Linked DNA regions of Homo sapiens: all the other regions are linked to region 2. Evidence: fine-mapped expression QTL. A gene starts in region 2. Each other region holds a variant in brackets. All regions are shown on one strand. Distances are between the middles of the regions.

Region 1 (8,107 bases), 160 kb after region 2:
TTGAACGGATGAGGAGTTGGTTCTTATGGGTGAGCAAAGAAAGTGATCTATTGAGATGAATCTACTCCTGGTGAAGATACGGTGAACACTGTTGAAATTACAATAAACGATTTAGAATATTTCATCAATTTAGTTGAGAAAACAGTGGCAGAGTTGAGACGGTTGACTCCAATTTTGAAAGAGGTCCTACTGTGGGCAAAATGTATTGTGTGCTACAGAGAAATCTTTCATGAAAAGAAGAGTCCATCAATGCAACAATTACTATTTTTAGAAATTTCCACAGCCACTCCAACCTTCAGCAGCCACTACCCTGGTCAGTTAGCAGCCATCATTCAAAGCAAGACCCTCTATCAGCCAGAAGATTACAATTTACTGCAGGCTCAGATGCTCATGAGCATTTTTTAGCAATAAAGCATTTTAAAATTAAGGTATGTACAATTTTTAGACATAATTGCTACTGCATACTTAATAGACTGTAGTAGAAACATAACTTTTCTGTGCCCTGGGAAACGAAGAAATTTGAATGGCTTGCTTTATTGCAATATTCACTATTATGGTGGCCAAACTTGGCCTGGGACCAAACTTGAAATATCTCTGAGTCATGCCTGTACTCTTGGTGAAAAGGTTCAAAGGTTATGGAAGCGTGGGCCAGGAATGTGTCCTATAATCCACAGGCAGCAGGCATTCAGTTTAGGGCTTAAGACACATCCCTGGCTTGCCTTTTAGATATGGAATCATAGTCCTTGGACTTAGTTTTTTAAACCTGTTTTGTAATTTTTTTATGTTGGCATCTGTAGATTTCCTCATCTTTATCAGCTACATAATCATCCACTGTATGTTTATACTGTGCCATAACTTATATCACCATCAGCAATGCCACAATGAAAATTTTTGAACAAATATCTGAGTAGGTATGGGGAGGGGGGGCAGTTTTAAAGAATGAATCCCCAATTTGTATCCTCGTGGCATTGTAGTTTTACTTTGCATTGCTCTGATTATTCTACATTGCACCTTGGCTGGTTAGCAGCACCTTCTGTGATACCAAGGGGACTGTGCAGGTGGAGGCATGCTGCCCCCTTCACAGCCACAGCCCATTTGCCTTTCATGCCTTTAGACAGAAAAGGAACACAGGGAATCCATGGAGGTTCAACTCGTTGTCGTGACGTCATGTTTTGGGGTCTCGAAGGACAAAATGCAACTGAGTCAGTGGGTGGAGCGGCAGCATTGCCCAAAAATCTCTTCACTGAGCAACCCCTGGAGATCACTTTAGAGGTGTGGGCTGGAAGTGCCTTCCAGCCTTACCTAGGATTCAGCTCTTTAACACCTTTTTAAAAAAAATCAATTTCATGTTTCAAAGGGAAAAATGGCATGAAAGTTTTAGAACTACTGTTGGGACACAGCTATTACTTGCCTTATTTGGGAGCGTTCACAAGCTGTTTGGTAGTTAGCCACTAATGAGCATGGTGTATTGAGCTGAGCAAGCTGTGGGTATTGGAATTTAACCTTTTTTTAAAATACGCACAACATTAAAAATCCTGTTTTTTCCCCTAGATTATTTGCAGGTGTCTTCCCTCGAATGGCAGCCATCAGTCTGGGAGGTTTCATCTTTCTGGGGGCTTATGACCGAACGCACAGCTTGCTGTTGGAAGTTGGCAGAAAGAGTCCTTGAAGCAGAGACAAGCCTCACCTCCACTTCTGTCAAGAGAGGGGCCTGCAGTGCAAACCCTCTTCCGCTGAGCAGCTGTCTGAACTATAGGCCCCAGTGCTGAAGACCAGTTGTGCTAAGATACCGGCATGGAGATTGTGCCATCCGTGGTATAGGCTGGCTGGTATGAAGTCATTGGCCTGTATGCCAGAGAGCTAAGAGAAGAAAACGGGGTCTGTGGCGGTACTCTGAACAATTTCCTCAGAACCTCTTAATAAATAAGTTTGGTAATGCTGAGGCCAGGCCTTTTAGAGCTTTCATTTGATCTGTATCTGATCTTTCATTTCCTGCCACCTGATGGTGGATTCAGCAGAAGGCAAGATGGTTATAATTCTAAAAGAATAGCTTGTTTGTTTGTTTGGGAAAAGGAGACTTGGGGAAGAGTTGTGTATGTGGGTGTTTCTCCCCCTAGTTAATTCCTGTTGTGTAAGGGTAGGCTTTGTTGAAAAAGAAAGAAAGATTGAACTACAGGTGCATAGCAAGCACTCTTTCTGGGTAACTAGGCTGCTGGTTTTAATTACCCTCAGATTTCACCCATAAAAACGCACAATTGTATTATTTTACAGAGATGTGTCCAGCGCCCCCTGTGGTGTGTGAGAGAAAGCAGCTGCAACTCAAGTGACTAGGTGGGCCCAGCTGGCTTCGTGCAGGAGGGCACGGTGGGTGAGCCATTCTCGCCATTCTCATGTCAGACTGAAAGGAGGGCCTGGGCCAGCTTTGAAAAGGCAGGATGAAATGGAAAGGTCACCACACTTAGGGATTTTAGACCTTGACTAACAAGCTCCAGGTGTAGAAAAATTCAAAACAAAATGTCAGGAATCTAGCAGTGTTGTCTGCCCTGGAGCAAACAAACAGTATGTGATTTTGCTTCGCCTATTTTTTTTTTCTTTTTTGGGGGAAGATAATTAAAGGCAGAATGACTGCGTTTGTAAAAGAAGGACCACCAACTATACTGACATTTATAAATGAACCTTTATTAAAGACACTTCAATGCCATTTGTTAGACACTTCAATATTTTACATGGTTTTCAATGTACACTGTACCAAAATTTCTATAAATAAATAACTTTGTACATAAAAGTAATACTCCCTCTTTCACATTGCCTCTCAGAAGCAGCAAATTCACATATTTTGTGGAAGTAAGATTAGTCAGTTAACTGTCAAGAACAAAATTCTAAATGTGCTTACCTTTTGAACAGTGATGACACCTGACAGTAATTGTTAACTATTTTCTCAGTAACTCCCTTCAGCTTTTGGCCAAAGGAACATTTGAAGGACCTTGTTTCTATTTAAGTTTTACTAAATGACACATTGGCACTCATAAGATGGTTAGCTACCAGTCTCAAAAGTGCAAATTATACCCAGAACCCAGGTCAAGGGCTGTCCTTTCCAGTCCCAGCTCAGTTTCATCTGTGCGAAGGAATGGCATGGACAGGCCTGCTCTGGGTCCTTAGTAGAAATAAGGTAGCCCTGAAAAGTCAGAACTTCCTCCTTTCTGTCCCCCAAGGCCAATGTAATACTCATTATATTGGCAAAACGAAAACATCAGTATAGAAAAATCCACAGGTACCAACACCAGCAGCCTTTACCTTAATTTAAAAGTCTCAAATAGCAATCGAATGATACTGAGAAGGCCACATTTGCTTTTATCATAAAATAAGAGGAGGAGGAAAGGCAGTGTTTAACTGTTCTGACCTTTTGCTTGTGATGGATTAACAACCCTCATTCTACGCCTTACAGACGGACAGATTCTACGCCTTACAGACAGACAGGACTTAAACCTAAAAGGAAAAGCCATTCACTGCAAGTGTGGATGGCACTTGCACCCCTGGCTCTACAGACAGGGAAGCCTGTTGCAGGGGCATCCACACATGAGCAGTGCTCACCTGAAGCTCCTTCCGGCGCATGTGGAGTCCCACCGCACAGCAGCCTAGGGGTCTATGAAGTGCAATATAAATCCAAGGCCTTCCATCCTTCCCACCCCGCACCAAAAACTCCTGTGAACAAATGTGGTTGTAGCCTCTATAAATTCCAGCCATGCGTTAAGGCACCAGAACTATTTCCCC[AC/A]CCCCTCCAAAATTAAACAGCAACCTGATACGAAAAATAATATTGTCAAAATTGTATAATTTTTTTCTGTTAACCATGCACTAAAGATTAAAATAGCCTCTGTAAAAGATATATATGAAATCTCTGAAAACTCTTATGTACAATGATATCAAATACTTTTTTTGCCTTTTGTACACAAATCCCCTCTTGCGTTTACTGTGCTTCAGATCCAAGTCCTGTGAGCGACTGATACTCCACATGGGAGTTACAACTATGTACAGATGAGTGACGCTTGAACCCAAGCTTCCTCGCAGCCTCTCCTACCTCTCTTTCCCGTAGAGATTGGTATGACAAGAACTGAGGTAGACAAAACCTAGCTTTTTGGTGCCAACAGCAGTGGCACCCTCTGTTTCCCGGGGAGCTGTCCTGTCAGTGGCGTGGACTCGGGACTGGCGTCACATGCTTTGGGGAGGTGGCCATTGGAAACAAGCAAGTACTGGGCTTCCGCGCGCTCTGGACTGCCTGAAGTTAATGAAGATGCAGGCTGTAGCTCTGTGGAGTCCGGGTGATACAACCTTGCTAAAGTCCAGGAAGAATCCCCTACAAGGAAAGAACGAACCTGTCAGACCCCCACTTGACCGTTTAAGCAGCTCCCAACCCACCTGTTAGAAGACAGTCAAAAGTTACCTTTCCCATCTAGAGATGCCATTGGCTTTTTCTTCACAGCCGTCAGCATTCTATCGTGGTTACTGGGGTAGAGCGACCCTTGGCACTCGGGGCAGGACCCAGCGGCAGTCCTGCTGCACTGGTGATGTGGAGAATGCTCTTGGTCACTCCCACCCGGCTCCGGGCCATTTGGCGCACTTGGCTGTGCGCTGTCTCTGGACACAGGCTGGGGGTGGAAGGCTTGTCCCCTGGAGTAACAGTCCACTTCGGTGTTGCAGTCACTGCATACGACCCGGCCACCGTGTTCTGAAGGACAGCGCCAAAGATGGGTTAGAGTCACTGCTGTGGGAGTCTTCGTCCCCACACAGAGGACAGGCTGCTCAGCTCCACTGTGCAAGGTGAGAACCCTGACTGCAAACACTGTATGCATGCTTCCTCTTTTCCCCAACTATGTCCCCAGAGAAAGGACTGGGCAAACACCAAGTCACTCATGAACTGTGGGGTCTTTCGTGTTTACAGTGAATTTCATAGACAATGTAGTCTTACTGCTTCACGGGGGAAAAGCCATTAGCCTTAGGTACCATGCAGTGTTGGGTCTTTTCAACAATTAGAAATAAGCCTCAAAATAGCCCTGGTGAAAAAGTGCTGACTGAAACTCTATACTTCGTTTGTGCCTTGCCCCTTATTTAAGTTGCTTATACATCTAGAAAATTCATGCTCAGGCTTACCATGGCGTAGATTTATTTAGGAGAAACTATCCTGGAATTAAGAGAGCCAGGCCTGAGCTTCCCCTGTATATACTGAATACCAAATTTGGAGACAGCTGTGGACTAGGAATGTGTCTCCCCCTTTGATGTAGTGACTAGGTCAGCCCAAATTTCCATTTCAGAAAGAAACTACTTCCAATGGGAAGCATCTCATACCCATCTTATGTGGCCCAGGTGTCCCTTCAGCTTTCTCCATCGCTTTCCACGGCTCTTTGTGATACGCAGACCCAGCACAGAGCTTTGGCTGCCTGCAGGCAACGCTGTGAGTGTCGGGCTCTGGAAAGTGGCTTGCATCTCTTGGACACACACCTGCAAGTGGATTCCAACACGATTAGAAACTCTGGGCTTGGTATTTCACAGTAAGCCTTATGAAAGGAATGAGCAAGGCCGCTAGAACAGTCATTTTTTTTAAAAAGTTCTTCAGAGCGGTGGGGCTGCTGGTCTGGCAAGCAGCGTGTTTTCTGCTACTACTTCCCAGCAGGCAGGCTGGCCTTGTGAAATGAGCAGCTGTCTCAGGGTGAGCCTCTACAGTCTCAGGCAAGTGCTCAGAGGCCCCCACCGTTGGAAGTACCTCATCCTGGTGACAGCTTTCCAGTGTAAGACTGGATCACAGAGCAGACCTGGGCACGTTCCCCATGTAAGGAATGGGTTGGCTGGGTTCATGCACCGTAATGCCCTTTCCAGCTGCTACTCCAGGCAAGCCTACTTTATCCTGCCAGGGAGATGCTAAGCCCAATCCAGTGGCTTCCTGAGGGGACAGGACTTTAAAACCTTGCAGAACTCATGAAGACTGGGTCCAAAATAGCAGCCCTTAGTCATACCGCCTTCTACTTCACCAAGTTTGCCCCATCTAATGCCAGGTACCTGCCCTGTAAAGACCTGGAGGCCACCTCCAGCACCCAGAGACACAGTCACAGCAGAGCTCTGCTTCACAGTTACTGAGGCCTTACCATTGCTCTCAATGTGCCCATTGGCCTGAGGGCCACCCTCGGTCCTGACCACGGTTTCTTGTCGGTCAGAAAGGGTCCCCTGAGAAGAGAGGTAGCTTGGAACATCTGGTGGCACGACGGTTTCATCTGCAAGGAGACAGAACAAATAGAACACCAGGGTCTCAGTGACAAGAAATGCAGACACACGTTCACTGTCAAGCTCAGAAAGGGGATCCTCCCAGTGACGACCATCAGCGCTGTGCAGAGAGATGACATGGAGTCCATGTACGCAACAGGCCCTCCCAGAGCCTGCTCAGCTTTACTCTACACCCAGCGTGAAGAGCGCAGCCAGCAGATGCCAGACGCCACAAGAAGTGGAGACCAGTGATGGAAAGCCGGGGCTCACAGAAGTACCGCACTGTTTCAGGAACAACCTACTACGTGGCAGCAGGGCCTGTGCATAGGCGGCCTCTGAGTTAGCAAGGAGAGGGAAAACTGCATGGTGCGTCAGTTACTTGTATTTGTGAGTATTCCTGTTTAAGGTTAAATTTGAGAGTATTCCTGTTTAAGGTTAAGTTCCTCAAAGTTAAAATGGAATTAGTGGGACTAAACCCTCAGGAGTTCTGAACACAGTGCAATTCTTTCAAAAGCCACTGGAACCCGGCCCAGTTCCCCAGCATCACTGCCATTCCTCCCTCCTTGAAAGTCAGCTCCGCTGGCAGGGCCTGACCTGTGTTGGTGACACTGTACTCTTCACTCTTCTTCCTGGTCTGGTAGATGATGCACACCCAGACCAGTGACGTCAGGACGATGCTGCTCACGACAGCAATGGTGAAGATGCCTACCGTGGTCCCATCCTTCCTGCAGCCTGCTGCGGGCAGGACGCTCAGCTGGCTGTGAGCTCGCTCCGTGCCCAGGGTGTTGGACATCTCACAGGTATATCGGCCCGCATCCTCTGCCACCACGTTCTGAACCACCAGGAGCTGGTTGTCAGGGGTCAAGTGGTGCCGCTCAGTGAGGCTCAGCGGGCGGTCCCCCTTGAACCAGGTGATGCGGGGCGGAGGGTTCCCCGTGGCTTTGCATTGGAGGGCCACTGTTTCTCCCACAGATACCACACGGTCTTCCAAGGGGACCACCAAGGATGGGGTCTCTACAAGAGAGCAACAGAGATCTTAGTCATTCTCAGGGCCTCCGTTGCTCTGGCTCTGCCCGGTCTTCTGGACAACGGACAATCCAACATATCAATGAGATGCATCTGAGATTCTGTCTCAGAGTGGCAAGCTTTGGAGAAGACCCTTCAACTCATTGACTGAGTCATCTCCATGCTGGGAGTGGCTTCCACAGGGACAGTGAACCTCTGCTGACAAAAGCCCCTGCTATTCCCTAACTGTCCTGTGTCAGGCCTGTGTCCTTATTCTTGACCAAGCCCACATCCATCCTGTCCAATTCTTAAAATGTTCTGTAGCTCTTGACCAAGCCCACATCCATCCTGTCCAATTCTTAAAATGTTCTGTAGCTAAACCCTATGAAGACTCTTAATTCACCAGCTATCATTTCTTTTAAAGAGATAGAAACACTTGTTTAAGAAAAATTAACTCAACTCAAAAAGCAGCCCCAAATTTCAAACAGGGTCGAAAGGCCCACAACGCATACCACCCCTGGCCACACAGAGCATTTGAGAGTCTCTCTCTCTCGCTCACACACACACACACACACACACAGTAGAGCAATAGGCAAACCTAGGACAGTCAGGGTGGCATTAGCTGAAATAGAACCGGCTGAGTTCTGAGCAGTACAGCTGTAAACCCCTGCGTCATCTATTTTCACATCAGTGATGAAAAACACGTCGTCATCCGGCATGACATGCATGCGTCGCTCACGGGCAGCGGGGAAATCCGTGCCTCCATCCTTCTGCCAGGCAATCTGAGGGTTTGGGTGACCTGTGGCAGCACATTCGAGGCGGGCCATGGTGGTGGTCCGGATGGTTATGTCGT
Region 2 (8,107 bases):
TGAGCTATGTCTTTGGTTTCTTGCTAATTTTTATAAATACTATTAAGATTTTAGAGCTTGTTTAAAAGAAAACTTGGCTTACAGTGATAGATTTAAGTGAGAAAGACAGGATTATTATAATATCACATGTGTAATGCAAATCAGTGCTTACCACATTGCCTGTATCTTTTAAAATGAAAGATTTGAGAACATATGCTGCCTGCAATGTGGTGATAATGATGATGCATTGAAATACTCCATTTAAAAAGCATGCACAAGTAGTAATGAGTCTTTCTGCTAGCATTTCATGAAAAGGAAGCCCTAGGTCATGTTTGTAATATCTGTATTTCCTAAAAGGATTCCAGTGGTATCATGAAATACCTGGTAAAGCCTTTACCTTGCATAAAAGGAGAGACTATGTATTTCTTCTTGATTCTGAAAGATACCTGATAAATTACATTTCCCTCCAAGTTACCAGAAAATGACATCAACACAATTTTTTCTTGCAAAGTTAAAGACAACCATTGCATTGAAGAGGAAAGGAATTTTTTTCTTAATTTTACTTCAAAGGATGTATTAAATCAAAATTAAAGGTATAAGTCTAGGTTAAATTTTCTCTTAGGGAAGGAATTACATCAAAAACTTCCAGGAACATTAGTAGCTAGAAATAAGATTTATTTTCACTTAGGAGGCTATAGTAGTATGTATCACAAAGTACTTATGCACCTTGATAACTTATCAGTCTCTCATTCATAATATTCAGAATCTCTAACTTAAATAGGAAAATACGGAATAAACCGAATATTTCTATATGACAAGCACTGGACTAAAACTTTCTGTGCATATATTATTTATTCCTCATCATCCTGCGAGATAGTAATATTTTAATCAACTTTATTGAGCTATAATTTACATATACTTTTTTTTTTTTTGAGATGGAGTCTTGCTCTTGTCACCCAGGCTGGAGTGCTGTGGCACAATCTCAGCTCACCGCAACCTCCACCGCTCGGGTTCAAGCGATTCTCCTGCCTCAGCCTTCTGAGTAGTTGGGACTCCAGGCGCGCATCACCACACTCAGCTAATTTTTTCTATTTTTAGTAGAGACAGGGCTTCACTGTGTTGGCCAGGCTGGTCTCAAACTTCTGACCTCAGGTGATCCGTCCACCTTGGCCTCCCAAAGTGCTGAGATTACAGGTATGAGCCACGGCGCCCAGCCTTATAGTTTATATATACTAAGTACAACCATTCTAATTGTGCAAGTCAATGCGTTTTAGTAAATGTACACACCCATGCGACTACTACCACAATAATAACAAGAGAATATCTTCATCATTGCAAACTATTGTTTTGTGCCCACTTCATAGTCAATACTTTGCCTCTACCTCCACCGCCTGGAAAGCATTTATATACTTTCTGTCACTATAATTTTGTCTTTTCCAGAATTTCACGTAAGTGGAATCACAATACATGTGGTCTTTTTTTTTTCACATAGCATAATGCTTTCAGATTAATCCATGTTGTTTCATATATCAGTAATTCATGTCCGTTTATTGTTGAGTGATGTTCCATTATAAAGATGTATCATAATATGTTTATACCACCAGTTGATAGACATTCAGGTTGTTTTCAGTTTTTGACTATTATGGATAAAGCTGCTTTGAAATATAATGTAAAAGTATTTGTATAAATGTTTAGTTCTCTCGGGTAAATACCTAAGTGTGGCATTGGATTTTATAATGGTTGTACCATATAAAATTCGAAACAGCAATGTATGAGATTTCCAGTTGCTTCTCATCCTTGTCAACACTTGGCTTTTTAATTTTAGCCACTCTAGTGAGTTCTAGTGTATTCATATCTCATTGTGGTGTTCACCGGCATTTCCCTGATGTGGTAACCAGTTTCCAAGATGGCACCCAGTGATCCTCATCTTCCGGTATTTAGGCTTTTGGGTAGTCCAGCCCCATAATAAATGTCGATTACCTGTGTAAACAATAGACTATTGCTGGAATGACAACTGAGTAATTTATGAGAACAGGTCATGAGAGACTTTGTAGTTTCTGTCTTGTTCTCTTTCAGACCACTTACTCTAGGAACAACCAGCTACTATATCATGAAGACACTCAAGCAGTACTATGGAGAGATGTATGCCATGAGGGATTAAGGCTACCTGCCAATAGCTAGCACTAATCTGCCAGTTATGGGAGTGAGCCATCTTGGAATTGGATCCTGCGGTCATGATCAAGTTTTATGATATGGCCCTGGCCACCATCTTGACTGTAGTGTCATGAAAATTTCTGAGTCTTAAACACCCAGCTAAATGACTCCTTGATTCTTGACGTATGAAAACTGTGTGAGGTAATAGAAGTTTATCGTTGCTTTAGTCTGTTAAATTTTGGGGGTAATTTGTTACGCAGAAATAGACAAATAATACAGATTTTGGTACTTGGAGGTGGGCGCTACTGTAATTCCTAAACTGTGGGAGTGCCATTGGCACCAGGCAGTAGGTGAAAGGTGGGAAGACTGTGAGGGAAATGTCAGTGAAAGCTTATTAATAGAAACTTGATGGCCTTTGAGGAGGCTGCCGGTGAGGGTTTATAGGAATGTGAAGTAGGCAGGATTCTAAGGTGGCCCTCAAGATTCCTGGCCCCTAATGTGTTTTGCATAATCACCCCACTGATTGTGAGCAGGACCTGTGAGTATGACAGAACATTACCACCATGATTATGTTGTCACGTATGGCAAAAGGAATTTTTCAGATATAATTAAGGTCTCTAATCAGTTGACTTTGAGTTAATAAAAATGGAGATTATCCTGGGTAGGCCTGACCAAAGCACATGAGACTTTGAAAGACATTAATAGCAGCAACAGAGATTCTTCTGCTGGCATTGACAAAGTGAACTAGCATGTTTTGAGAGGGCCTACAGGCAGCTTAGGGAAAGGTATTCTGGGTAGAGAGAACAACATGGGCAAAATTAGGAGGCTTGGAAGTGTATAGTCTGTCTGTGTGTAGTCCGGCTAGTGGGAAGAGTGACAGGAGACACCAGCTGAGAGGTGTATACCATGCTAGGGAGCTGGACTGTCTCCATTGGCAGCAGAGGGGAGTTGTAAGCAGGGAAATAACATTACCATCACCTTTAGAGAGTACTTTCTATGAGCCAGGAACTAGGCTAAGAACTTGAGTGCATTATCTCATTTAATCTATTAATATAATAGTACCGCATGACAAAGTGACTATCATTATCGCCACTTTACAGGGGAGAAAACTTAATCTTGGAAAACTTATCCCCAAACCCAGCAGGTGATAGAATTTGAATTCCATCTAACACCTAAAGCTATTCTGCGTATCATTTCTAGATCATTTTACCTAGAAGAGAATAAGAATAATTATAAGAATAATTCTAGCAGTGTTATAGAATAGGGATTGAAGAAAGGCCAGGCAAGGAGCCTGCTCAGGTTATTATAACGGTTTTGAGGAAAGATGATGAGGGCATTAAGTATATTTTCAGTGCTTGCTCTGCTGTGTTCTCTGTAGCCACATTGAGTCGGTTACTTGTTGGAGCATCAGGAGCCTCTGTAAAATGAGGACACTAGTGTTGCTGACATCATAGGGTTGGTGAAAGGATTAAATGAAAAAATGTCTGTCAATCACTTAGCACCACGTCTGAGATGTAGTTGGCCCTTAATATATACAGAAGTTTACAAGGTATTTGTTTGTTTAATAAAGACAGGTCCACTCCAAGAAATGTTATTAAGTACTTAATAACGTGTGCTTTGAGGTGTACACATGAGTACAACAGCGAACAACATGAGCAGGTAAATAACTGAACAAACAAATAATTTTAAATGCAGTAACTCTGTAAAGAGAAATGGAGGATGCTAATTTTTAACTCCGGTCAGGAAACTTCTGATGTATTTTTCTATATCTTTATTTAATAATCTTCTGATAATGAGTTAATTTAATATAAACTCAGATAAAATTTTTTGACAAAACTAAGAGATAAACCAAAATGAAATATCCGATTAGGATCCCGAATCGCGCCTCCCGAGGTTAGTACTACCCCTCACGACTCCTCCCTCCGCCACAGCCACGCCTCTTCTGGGTTTACAGTTCAGAATCACGCCGGCCTCATTCTACCGCTGCTCTCTCCTGGATCTCGGCCACGGATCTTTTGCTCGCGAAAGTTCCTCCGTCTAGCTGCACACAACGCTGCTGCAGGAAACCGAGGTAAGGGATTTGCCGAGACTTAGCTCCACCACACTCCCCGAGGCCCCGCCCCTCCTCTCTGGCCCTCCCCTAGGCCCAGGTGTCTCGCGTTGCACGTGCAGTTGTTGTGGTTCTACGTCACGTGGTCCCGGAAGTTCAAGACAGACCCGCCTCAAACATGGCGGCGCCCAGCGCGCGAGGACGTGATCCGCTTCTGCTCCGGCTTGGATTGTAGCCTTGACGAGGTCTGAGCGACCATGGACCGGCCGGGGTTCGTGGCAGCGCTGGTGGTGAGTGCGGGGCGGTGGGGTGGGTTGCTCAGAGTGCCGGCGTCCGGCATTGGAGCCCGCGGGCGTTCTCTGCACTGGTTTTCTTCCGGTTTTGCGGGCTGGACTGTCCTCGGGTTACTGGCAGCCAGGTCTGAGAGGGAGCACGAGGCTCCCAGGCCACCGGCGGGCCAGGTGTTAAGGCTATGTCTGTACTGCCAGGTCATAAGAGCCAGGTGGGGGAAGGAAGGTGAGTCATTGTCTTTTGCACCCTCATTTACTTAAAAAAGAGCTTCTATTATACACTGTTAACTACTCTTTCATTAAATAGTGTAACTACTCTAGAGATCTTGGGAATTAAAGAAATGTATGTAACACAACAACAAAAACCTTACTCACATCGCTCCCAGCCCTTCTATTCAATACTACGTTTCTCATTTTGCTGCATCTCTTTTCAGTCTTAGAAAATGACATGTCCTTCTGTTCATTCAATACATAATCTGCTATTTCTGCTCCAAGCCTAGGCTTTGGAGAAATATTGGTGAGCACACATAGCTCATCGGGAACGCTGCGGAGTCAATAAACAGGCTTAGTATTTAATTCCGTAGCAGAAAACTACGAGAATCAACATGAATTAACAGAAAAAAAAGTCCTTTACCAAATATTTTGGAGCGTCTGGTAGAGGATACTAGATACAGCAGTTAACAAAACAGAGTTTGGCTGCCTACGTTTTCATTGTGTGGAATGGGCAGAGACAGACAAATAATTTTTAAAATGATTTTCATAGGGAAAATGGAGGCCCACAGTGATTTAGTCACTTAATTATCGAATTTTGGTGTTGCAGGTGTTGAGGATAACATGGTGAACAAGATAGACCTGCTCCTAAGGGTCAGGTGTTAGAGACAAAATAGTAAAATGACTGTTGGGATAAATAACAGGTGGGCTAGGTTCAGGGTGTTAGGGGAATATATGGAAGTAGGGATGTCTTAGCCAGACTTGTAGGATGATAGCTTTAAATCTAGATTTGTTGAAACTTGTATAAGGTAGGTCTTAGAAATATAAAGAAATAATGTTACTGATTTTTTTTTTTTTTTTTGAGAAGGAGTCTCACTCTTCGCCCAGGCTGGAGTGTGGTGGCGCCATCTCGGCTCACTGCAGGCTCCACCTCTCGGGTTCACGCCATTCTCCTGCCTCAGCCTCCCGAGTAGCTGGGACTGCAGGTGCCCGCCACTACGCCCAGCTAATTTTTTGGGTTTTTAGTGGAGACGGGGTTTCACCGTGTTAGCCAGGATGGTCTCGATCTCCTGACCTCGTGATCCCGCCCGCCTCGGCCTCCCAAAGTGCTGGGACTACAGGCGTGAGCCACGGCGCCTGGCCAATGTTACCGCTTTTAAGGAGCTTTCCTGTCTAGCTGGTGACACAGCAGCAGTAGTTTGTCAGCTAACATTCCTGTGCCAGGAACTGGGGTAAGCTCTTTACATACATTATCCCATTTAATTCTCACAATAATTGAACTCTTATCCTAATTTTCCAAATGAGGGAAGTGGGATACCAAGAGATTAGATAACTAGTTCAAAATCACACAAGTGAGATCCATTTCGTCTGTGTAAGTATTGGAGCTCATATTCCAACCCAGGTGATGTCACCTGGGAGTCGTGCCCTTATCTGCTTCTTGATACTCTCCGAAGTCAGCAAAGGTTGCAATTGCTAAAACACAGGTGAGTGCTGCAGTTAACAAAAGAATGGATTTAGTATATACTTAATTAAAGTATGATACACATGCAGTAAAGTATACTTTTTTCCCAATGTATTTATAGAGGGTAAAATTAGAATCAATAGGTGGAAGTTTCAAGAAACTAGATTTCATTCCAGGTAAAGGAAAAACATTTTATTTATGCATTCAGCACACAATTTTTCTTCCATCTATTCTGCCCACTGGGTATTGTGGTAGGCTTTGTAGATACAGTGGCAGATAACCCCATTTCAAGTAGGGAAGAAAGGCCAGCAGATAAAACAGTTGCAATGAATAAGTGCTATGAAAGAAATGAACTGAAGATGCGACAGAGTAGGCAAATATTGGTGAACCTCTTAGATGGAGTGACCAAGGAAAGCCACGAAGTGGTAACATTTCAGCTAAGACCTAAAAGATAGGAAGGGGCTTGAATTTTTGATGATCAGAGTGGGAGGTTCAGTCATGGGGAATGGCTCAAGTGGAAAGAGCTTAGAGTTTTCAAGTGGTGAGGCCTAATGGGTAAGGATAGCATGGCAGGGGTTGGTATGGGAGGGGTAGGCAAAGCCAGCTGAGGTGGGGCTTTATGGGCTAGGGAAAATAATTTGGATTTCATTTGTAGTGTAATGGAAGCCATTGAAATGTTTTATTATCAGAGTAGTACGGAAATGGAGTGGCTACTTTTTAATGTCTTGGAGTGCGTTTGAGACACAGTGAACACTCCTGAGGGAGTTTGGTTTTGCTTACTACTCTTTTACCAGTACCTGGCACTAGGTAAGCACTCAGTACTACTTTGAATGAAAAGCCTAGATGATTGCTGAAGTCTTGAAACTTGGATTTGAAGAATTAAATGAGGTAACATTAAACACACAGAGCAGAGCCTGGCAAGTAGCAGACATTGAAATGCTCCCTTCCTAAAGCTTCATGAAGAGGATTGAATAAGTGGAGAGCCTCTGGGATGTTAGTTATCATTTGGAGCACAGAGTGGGGTATCCAGAAACAAAATCCTCAAAGAGTACATTGATCAGTGCATACTTTTAGGAAAGCAACTGGAACTATGTATTAGCAACCTAAAGATATTTATATAAATAACATTTAACTCAGTGAAGACAGTAAGAAGCTGCTAAAACATGGGACAGAGGGGAAGAATTAGACAAACAATGGGAAACCCATTTCTTGGACTAGTCTGCAGCCATAAAAAATAGTGCTTGTGAAGAGAATGTACTATAATTACATGGAAAATGCTTATGAGATAAAATTAAGAGAAAAACATTGCATGTATGTATATTTGCTTGTACCTAATTAAAGCTATGTTAAAACCTATTCCATTCATGGGGAAAAAAAGCCAGATTGAAATACTCCAAAATAGCACTAAGTATTTTTGGTGGTAGGATTACATCGTGTTAGTCTGTTCTCATGCTGCTAACAAAGATACCTGAGACTGGGTAATTTATAAAGGAAAGAGTCTTAATTGACTTACAGTTCCATTTGGCTGGGGAGGCCTCACAGTTGTGTGGAAGGCAAAGGAAGAGCAAGTCATGTCTTACATAGTGGCAGACAAGAGAGCATGTGCTGCAGGGGAACTCCCCTTTATAAAACCATCAGATCCTGTGAGACTTACTCACTATTACCAGAAGAGCAAGGGAAAGACCTGCCCCCATGATTCAGTTACCTTCTACCAGGTCCCTCCCACAACACATTGGAATTATGAGAGTTACAATTCAAGATGAGATTTGGGTGGGGACACAGAGCCAAACCATATCATTCCACCCCTGGCCTCTCCCAAATCTCCTATCCTCACATTTCAAAACCAATCATGCCTTCTCAACAGTCCCCAAAGTCTTAACTCATTTTAGCATTAATTCAAAAGTCCACAGTCCAAAGTCTTATCTGAGACAAAGCAAGTCCCTTCTGCCTATGAGCCTGTAA
Region 3 (8,107 bases), 80 kb after region 2:
ACATCAAACATGTTCAAAACTTTATCTCAGATACTTAAAATCAAGTTATTTTATTTTCCTGATATACATGCATTTGCTTTATTTTTAAAAATAAACTGTCATAAAATAGTTGTAAGGCCATACATAAAATTTACTTTATTAATTGCTAAAATATATTGCTTATTTAAATAATCAGTTTTAAGAGTAAAAGCTTTGGCAACTATGAAAGCATAGGGAGTATGTGTTCATATGTGAATGTATTGTGTGTGTATGCATAGTATACTTTTAGGTATCTAAGTAGTGAAGATAAATGTCTGCTTTACTTTTATTAGCTAAATATTATATTTAACTTAATAATTATTTAATCACTAGAATGAAAATAAAACTTTGAACAGAAGCATTGTTTTTAACTTAAGTTTCATAGTTTACTACCTCTTTTGGCTCTTAACCATAATTTTAGTACTGGGAAGAATTTTTTTAACGAATGGCATAAAATGGATTGCAGATGGGATGAGAAAGGTGCAGGACCAAGAGGGTAAGAACTGAGAAGTCCTCGATTCTGTTTTCCACACTCCCTGAACAGAAGGCTTGACTGGCGTAGGCCCTGCTCCAACCTAGTGTAGGCTGCAGGAAGCCATGTGACAAGAGTCCAGATTGTTGTCCAATGGTGGAAGCCTCCCATTTATAAGTAATAATAAGAATAAGAATGTTTGGCATTGAGCGAGGTGCGGTGGCTCACGCCTGTAATCCCAGCACTTTGGGAGGCTGAGGCGGGTGGATCACCTGAGGTCAGAAGTTCAAAACCAGCCAGGCCAACATGATGAAACCCCTATCTCTATTAAAAATACAAAAAAAATAGCTGGGCATGGTTGTGGGTGCCTGTAATCCCAGCTATTCGGGAGGCTGAGGCAGGAGAATTGCTTGAATCCGGGAGGTGGAGGTTGCAGTGAGCCAAGATCGTGCCATTGCCCTCCAGCCTGGTCAACAACAGTGAAACTCCATCTCAAAAAAAAAAAAAAAAAAAAGAATGTCTGGCATTAATTCTAGAACTGAGATGCTCTTTTGCTTAGTAAAGTCATTTTTTCTTTTTGATCATTAAGCTACATGAGGTTTTGTAATGCATTCCATTTGTGGCTGTTCTTTATCAAAATATTACTATAACAGTAGCTTCCTTAGTACATCAGACATCAGGACACTGAAGGTCTAGTTGCAGTTTTGCCACTCGCTATCTTGTGCCTTTTGAAGTTGTTTAATCTCTCTGGGTATTGATTTCCTTTTTTAAAAAATAGTTGGTAAACTATGACCTGTGGGCCTAATCCAGATCACAGCCTGTTTTTGTAATAAAGCTTTATTGGCATGCAGCCACTTTCTTTCATTTATGTATTGTCTGTCTGCTTTCACACAACAGTGGCAGAGTTGAGTAGTTGTAACAGAGACTGTATGGACCATAAAGCCTAAGCTATTTATTATCTGACTCTTTACAGAAAAAGTTTTCTGAATCCTAGACTAGATCATCTTTGAGGGCTGTGCTGTGCCTTAGATTAGATTTCCTTTTTGTCAATTTCTCTTTAATTCTAAGTTCTCAAAAGATGTCTGTCTTTAAAGGATATAGCATATCATTTCCTCGTTATCAAATTTGCAAATTATGAAAAGAAGGAAAATACTGAGTAGATCATTGGTTCCCAAAGTACAGTCCCTCCACGAATAGCAGCTGCATTCCCTAGGAACTTGCTAGAAATGCAGAATCTAAGTCCCCACTTGAGATCTTCTGAATCAGAAACTTGGGGTGAGGCCCAGAATTTGTGTTATACACCCTCTGCATGATTCTGATGCATTCTGAAGTGTGAGAACCACTGGACTAGGTGATACAAAGTTCAGTTAACAGATTTTCTTCTGTTTTGAAAAAAAGAAGAGCTTAAATACCAAAACCATTTGATAGGTATATCAGGAGGAAAATGAAATGTTGGATATTATTACTAAGCTGGTGAAATTAATATTTTCTCTAGTAAAACTCCTTGTCATAAATTGTGGATAAGTTTTAATATAATGAGAAATTTCTGAGAGGTACATCTGTGTCACTTTCAGCATATTTTTAATGGACAGAAAAGTAAATATGATTTATTTCTTTGTGGGGTTTTCTTTTTTTGGTGGGAGATCACTTTGAATTATTTCAAAACTGATGATTTGTAATAAACAGTTTTCAGAATAAAAGAATTACATTAAGAATTAATTTGCTTGTGAAGAAAGTGTCTTAAGAAAAGAGCATTTAAGGGGCACAGCAGCCTCTGCTGTAGCTGGATTTCTTACCCATTTTAAGTGACATCAGTGTTGAATTGACTTTTTCCTCAGTGCTAAAAGCTGCTAGAAATGAGCACCAGTCACACTACTGATCTGTGTTAGGAAAGATCACAAACACAGTACTTTGTAATAAATGTCAGAGGAATAGCAAAATTGTACATGTCAAGAAAGCATTACAGGATGACGTTGCTATTTGGAGAATTGCTTTCATCTTTGAGATATCTCACACCTGCTTCATTTGGCATAGGTTGTTTCTATTTCATGAAAAACAGTCTTTTCCCTCCCCCAGATCCCAAGTTACATAGAAACAGTATGCTAACAAGGGAAAAATTTTAACATAAAAACTCACTTGAAGGTGCCATCTAAAAACTCAGTGTGTAAACTTAGTTAACTAACTTTATTTTGTTGAAAAGGGACCCTTGGTTTGTGTGTGTGTATGTGTGTGTACACATGAATACGTACCTATGTATACATTTGTTACTGTGTGTGTGTTTATATATGTATGTATACAGTTCATTTGATGTGCGTGTATATGCACCCATTTCCATGTATGTATTTAAAAGAATACATACAACAAACTTTTTTTTTGAGGCAAAGTTTCCCTCTGTCACCCAGGCTGGAGTGCAGTGGCACAGTCTCGACTCACTGCAACCTCCGCCTCCTGGGTTCCAAGCGATTCTCATGTCTCAGCCTCCCGAGTAGCTGGGACTACAGATGTGTGCCACCATGCCTGGCTAATTTTTGTGTTAGTAGAGACTGGGTTTTGCTGTGTTGGCCAGGCTGGTCTTGAAGTCCTGGCCTCAAGTGATCTGCTCACCTCAGCCTCCGAAAATGCTGGGATTATAAGTGTGAGCCGATGTGCTTGGCAAACAAACTTTTGTATATATAATCCTTTCATACTAATATTTAACTACTTGTAAAAACTATGTTAACCCCCAGTCACTAACACAGTTCCGTAGTCCATATTTATTATTGCTTCTTTCACTTTTCTCCTTTCTTCATGCATGAAAATATAATGTGATCCAAGGGGGTATGTGTGCATGAGGTGTGTGTTTATAGAGTAACAGTTAAATGTCTCGAAATAAACTGATTTGGATTTTTAGGTTATAGATGTTTTTGTTTTTTATTAAACGTCTTGATTGTTTGACTGTCATGGTTGTTTGTATAACTCCTTGAGAAACTTCCACATGCGGGTAGTTTTTGAAAAAGAAAATATTTATTTGCTTCAGTTTTTCAGGGGATGGTATCATACTGCTTTTTCACATTTTATGGGTGACATATTTGGCTATCTCTGGGCAAAAATCCAGTTAAAAATAATAGTATTTAATATTTAATAAACTACCAGGCTTTTGAGCCATCTGGAACTTTATTTTCTTTGCACGCAGCATCTGAGTTTCAGCTGTTAGCGTTTCTCCTTTGCTCTGGGAAGGGTCAATTGCTTTTAAAGTCTTTGAAGCTTGCTGTGTCAGCCCTTTTCATATTTTCAAAATGCCCGTGTAAAAGGGTTTTTCATCCATTCATGCTGATAAGTCTTTTGAACTTGAGGTTTGAACCAAGCTAATCAAATTTAATTATAGCTTAAATCCCGTTACAGTGAACTCCAGTGGACTTCTAGGCTAGGGTTTTTTTGTTTTGTTTTTTTTTTTTTTTTTGGTGTTATACTGGAATTTAGCCATTACCAATATTACTTGAAGTGAGCAGGCCATTGACTGCAGTTTGGGAGACCTTTTGTAATGGTCAGATTTTAGTTATAGTGACATTGGCAATATGATTTGAACTTTATTCTTTTCCAAAGGAAATAATTGAATTAGCCACAAGTAAAATTTCTTGTTCTTTGCATATATTTCAAATTACCTTTTCCTATTTGTCTTAAACAATTTTGAACAATTAAAATCTTAAAAGTACTTTCTTAAAGAGTCCTTTGGTGGTGGTGTCGCTGATGCTCGTTTTTTGTTTTTAAGATCCATAACAGAATAAGGATTTATATACATCCTCCTAGGGATAATGTCATGGTTTCTGCATATTTGCATAGCATTTTGAGAGAGACTTTTTCCTTTTTGCTTCATGAAAAAAAGTTTGAGCAGTATAATTTTCTAGAAAGAAGGAAATATAAATATTTTAGACTGTAGCATATACTAAAGGGAGGTGGACTAGTACTGATATTTTTAGTGCTTTCTTCAAAATGATTGCTAACACGTGTATTATATTTTAGTATCTTGTTGCATTCACTTGTTAATCTGTATTTATGCTTCTGTATATGCAGAGTTTTTTGTTTTTTCCAACACAATTTAAAATTCTACTTAAAAATTACTTGTTTGGATTTCTAAGCAGATTTGGGAATTACGGCATTGAAAATACTTTGTTGCTTTTTATGTCTCAATAAAGTCTATGCATTTTTATAATATTGGACCAGTGTTTGACCTGCCAGAATAAAATGATGATAGAACTCATTGTGTCCTCAAATAATTGGATTCTGAAATGGAA[G/C]ATAGGGTTCATGAAGAATAAAAAATAGTAGATCTCATGTAAAGGTGAAAATTTACTTTTCTTTTTAGTATTCAACTCAAAATTGCCAGTTTCCCTGAATTTATTATAGCAATTTCTCTTGTTTTAAAATGAAGTGAAATGTGAAGTTAATTTACATACTAGCTGCTTTGAAGTGTAATTTTGCTTGCCAAGTTGTTACAGATTTTTATACAGACTTTTTAAGGAATTTAGTAATAATGCTGCCACAGTGTGTAGGACAAGTTCATGCCTTGCATCTTTGATGGGCGTTAGAATTGTTTGCCACAGTTCCCACTCTGGTTGGAGGGCACAACCAATTCGTCTATGCCTTTTGACTTCCATGCCGGAGAGTGTGACTTCTGCATCTGTTTGTTAGTATTTTTATGTAAGCAGAAGCCAAGAATGTCATTAGAAAGTAAAACTTTAACAAGAGGGACTGAATCCTACTAGGCCAACATAATTTATAGAGAGCAGGGGCTAACATTTTCATTTGGGAAAAATGCTTCCATTTCTATACGTGTTTAGACGGAGTACCTTAAGCATTGTTTTAGTCTTTTCCTATCTACATGTTACCATTCAGAACTTAGGTGGATGAAACACATTTTATATGTAGTTACAGAGAGATACAGAATTAAAAGCCTACAGATACAAGCATTAGAATTGTGACGGGGGTAATTAGAAACATGGAGTCTGAAGGTAGCCTATCTGGATTCAAATCCCAGCTCCAGTACTTAGCCATGTGGCCTTAGGCAAGTTATTTAAACTGACTTATTTTGTTCCTCTGTAAGATGAGAGTAACAATAATACCAACCTCATAAGGTTGTTGGGAAAATTACATGTGTTCCTGCATATGAAGTGCTTAGGACAGTGCCTGAAATACAGTCCTATATAAATGTTATAATTTATGATTATTGTTGTGATGATAATGATGATAATATCACTAGCAGCTCCTCTGAAACTTGTTGGCCTCATCCAAGGCCTATCACTTAGCTTTATCCCCAGTGTCTCTAATACTCCATCTGTTGTGCAGAAGTATATCCTGAACCTTCCTCCCTCTGAATTTGCCCACTTGGCACCTCTTCATTTGCTCTTACAATCTCTAGACCATAAATTTCAAAGACGTGGCCCAAAATGTTGGACTCAAGGTTTTTGCAAACTACAAGCTAACATGTTAAAATTGAGTGGTTTCATATACAACTCCAGTTATCCAAGTTTTCTTGGACAATCTGGGTATCTGGTCATAGTGGGCCTACATTTCTGCATGGCAGTAATTGTCTAGAACAGAGTAGCGGCTGCTTGTTTTGACAGAAACTGCTCTCCATGTCATCAGAGTCCCTGCCACTTCCTGTTGTTTTGACACTTTTCTCATTCTAGTCATCGATATCATTTTTTTGGGTCATGTAATACTTATTTGCTGCCAGCAGTTTAGAGTAAGCAGCGGTTCTCCACCATGTGTTCTGCACACTCATACTCCACTAGGCCTTTGCTGATAGGTCACCAGATTTTGATTCATGTGTAAAACATACATTAGTTAAAATCAAGTATGCATAATAGTGTTTTGGCTTTGTCTGTCAGAAGCAACATTGAGCTGGGCAGGTGTGCTTGTGTATTAGAGCTAGATACAACTTGGTGAAAAGGTTAGCCCATATTTAAGTTCAAACCAAAGAACAGTGATTAAAGCCCAAGCCAAAGAAAATTGAGATATGGGAGAGCTTTGCCTTCTGAGTGTGTAAGGGAGCACAGGTGGTGCACGCCATGTGTTCAGTGTCTCAGTGCTAGGGAGTCAGCAGGGATAAAGAAAGATAACTGATGCCTTAGAGCAGAGTTTAAGGGGCTGTGGATTGTGTCCATGGGGACCCCCCTTTGCATTCCAGGCTGTGTAGCAGCATCCCTGGCCTCTACCCACTAGATACCAGGAGCACCTCCCGTGAGTAGTGACAATTTAAATGTCCCCTGGGAGGTTGAAAGATGCAGAAGACATTATAATATAGTAGTTATCATGGTCTAGTCACTGTTGACATCTTTAATACTGCTTTTAGTCTTTGAATCCTTTGAAATATTGGCTTTGTACTCCACTTTTCTAAAGCATTCAGTATTTATTTTATGGCCATTTTACTACAGTATCAGAGAGGAGATATACTTCTCTCCCCCTCTCTAGTCAAGCACAACTGCAAGTATCTTTAAGGCGCAGCCACCTTTAAGGAAAGACTTCTGGGAACAGCTAACTGTGTTGGAGGAACTGGGCTGTGGCTCGTCCTCTGCTGCTCGTTAGCCCTGTGAACCTGGGGAGGCTAGCTCCCTCTCTTAGTCTTGGCTAAAAGTGAGGTGGCTGGATCAGATAATCAGCAAGATGCCTTCCAGGTAAGATTAGGCTGTAAGTCAGAAAATATTGTAGGACTTCTGAAACTTTAACTGCCAGTCAAGATCACTTAACTAGAATGTCCCACATTTTTCACTCCATTGAAATGAGTAACTTCAAGTGTCATGTAACATCAGGATCACTTAGGGGAATGTCTAGAGGTGCAGTAGATGATTGTTAGCTTTCTGTTGCTGTGTAATGAATTACCACAACTTTAGTGGTTTAAGGTGACATATATTGATGATCTCATGGGTCTCTACAGCAGCAGTCTGAGGACCGCGTGGCTGAGTTCTCCATTCACTGTTTCACACAGTGACAGTCAAGGTGTTGCAGGGACTGTGATCTCATCTGAGGCTAGGGTCCTCTTCCAAATGCACAGGGCGGTTGGCAGATGGCATTTCCTTGTGGCAGTATGACTGAGGATCCTGTTTCTTGTTAGCGATTGGATGGTGACCACACTTTACTTCCAGAGGCTGCTCTGAGGTCCTTGCCATGTGGCCCCCTCCATAGGCCCTTTTACAACATGAAATTTTATTTCTTCAGAGCCAGCAGGAGAATCTCTCACACTTCAGATCTTGTTAGGAAGGGGCTGGTTTTTCTAAGAACTCACCTTTGAAGTCAAGCCCATCCACGATAATTTCCCTCTTGATAAACTCAGAACCAACTGATGGGGGAACTTAATTAAATCTGCAGAATCCATTCATATTTCTGATTAAATGTAACTTCGTCACAGGACTTGTCTTTGTCCTGTTCACGGTCCCATCCACACTGGATGGGGGAGGATTATACAGGGCGGGTACATCAGGGAGTGGGAATCTTGGGGGCCTCCCACAATGCCTCTTGATTTAAAAAGATTCTGGAGCATACTTTTTCTTATGTCTCATATCTAAGCTAATATCTTCCCTTTTCTGTTCAGTTTCAGTTTTGTGTTCACATGTCTGTTGTCATATTTTTTCTTCTATTTTTGCA

Evidence for each region.
Region 1: its variant is fine-mapped to the expression of SLC25A26 in whole blood (TOPMed, PIP above 0.99).
Region 3: its variant is fine-mapped to the expression of SLC25A26 in blood mononuclear cells (TOPMed, PIP 0.99).

The regions. Positions count from the first base shown.
Region 1 is chr3:66,376,139-66,384,245 of GRCh38, forward strand. SLC25A26 (solute carrier family 25 member 26) reads left to right here. Exons shown (of 10, transcript NM_001379210.1): 10 at 1,552-2,785. The coding sequence ends at 1,669. It overlaps LRIG1 (leucine rich repeats and immunoglobulin like domains 1), which reads right to left. Exons shown (of 19, transcript NM_015541.3): 14 at 7,853-8,107; 15 at 6,844-7,263; 16 at 6,135-6,260; 17 at 5,341-5,493; 18 at 4,439-4,723; 19 at 2,659-4,351. The coding sequence ends at 4,125. Among named protein-coding and RNA genes, the nearest start is that of LRIG1, 120 kb to the right of the region's middle. RefSeq lists enhancers at 6,557-7,058, 7,059-7,558. The variant AC/A (reference allele first, on the strand shown) is at 3,772.
Region 2 is chr3:66,216,655-66,224,761 of GRCh38, forward strand. SLC25A26 (solute carrier family 25 member 26) reads left to right here and starts at 4,347. Exons shown (of 10, transcript NM_001379210.1): 1 at 4,347-4,473. The coding sequence starts at 4,441. RefSeq lists enhancers at 3,960-4,119, 4,290-4,349, 4,471-4,970.
Region 3 is chr3:66,296,345-66,304,451 of GRCh38, forward strand. All of the region lies in intron 5 of SLC25A26 (solute carrier family 25 member 26), which reads left to right. Among named protein-coding and RNA genes, the nearest start is that of SLC25A26, 79 kb to the left of the region's middle. The variant G/C (reference allele first, on the strand shown) is at 4,762.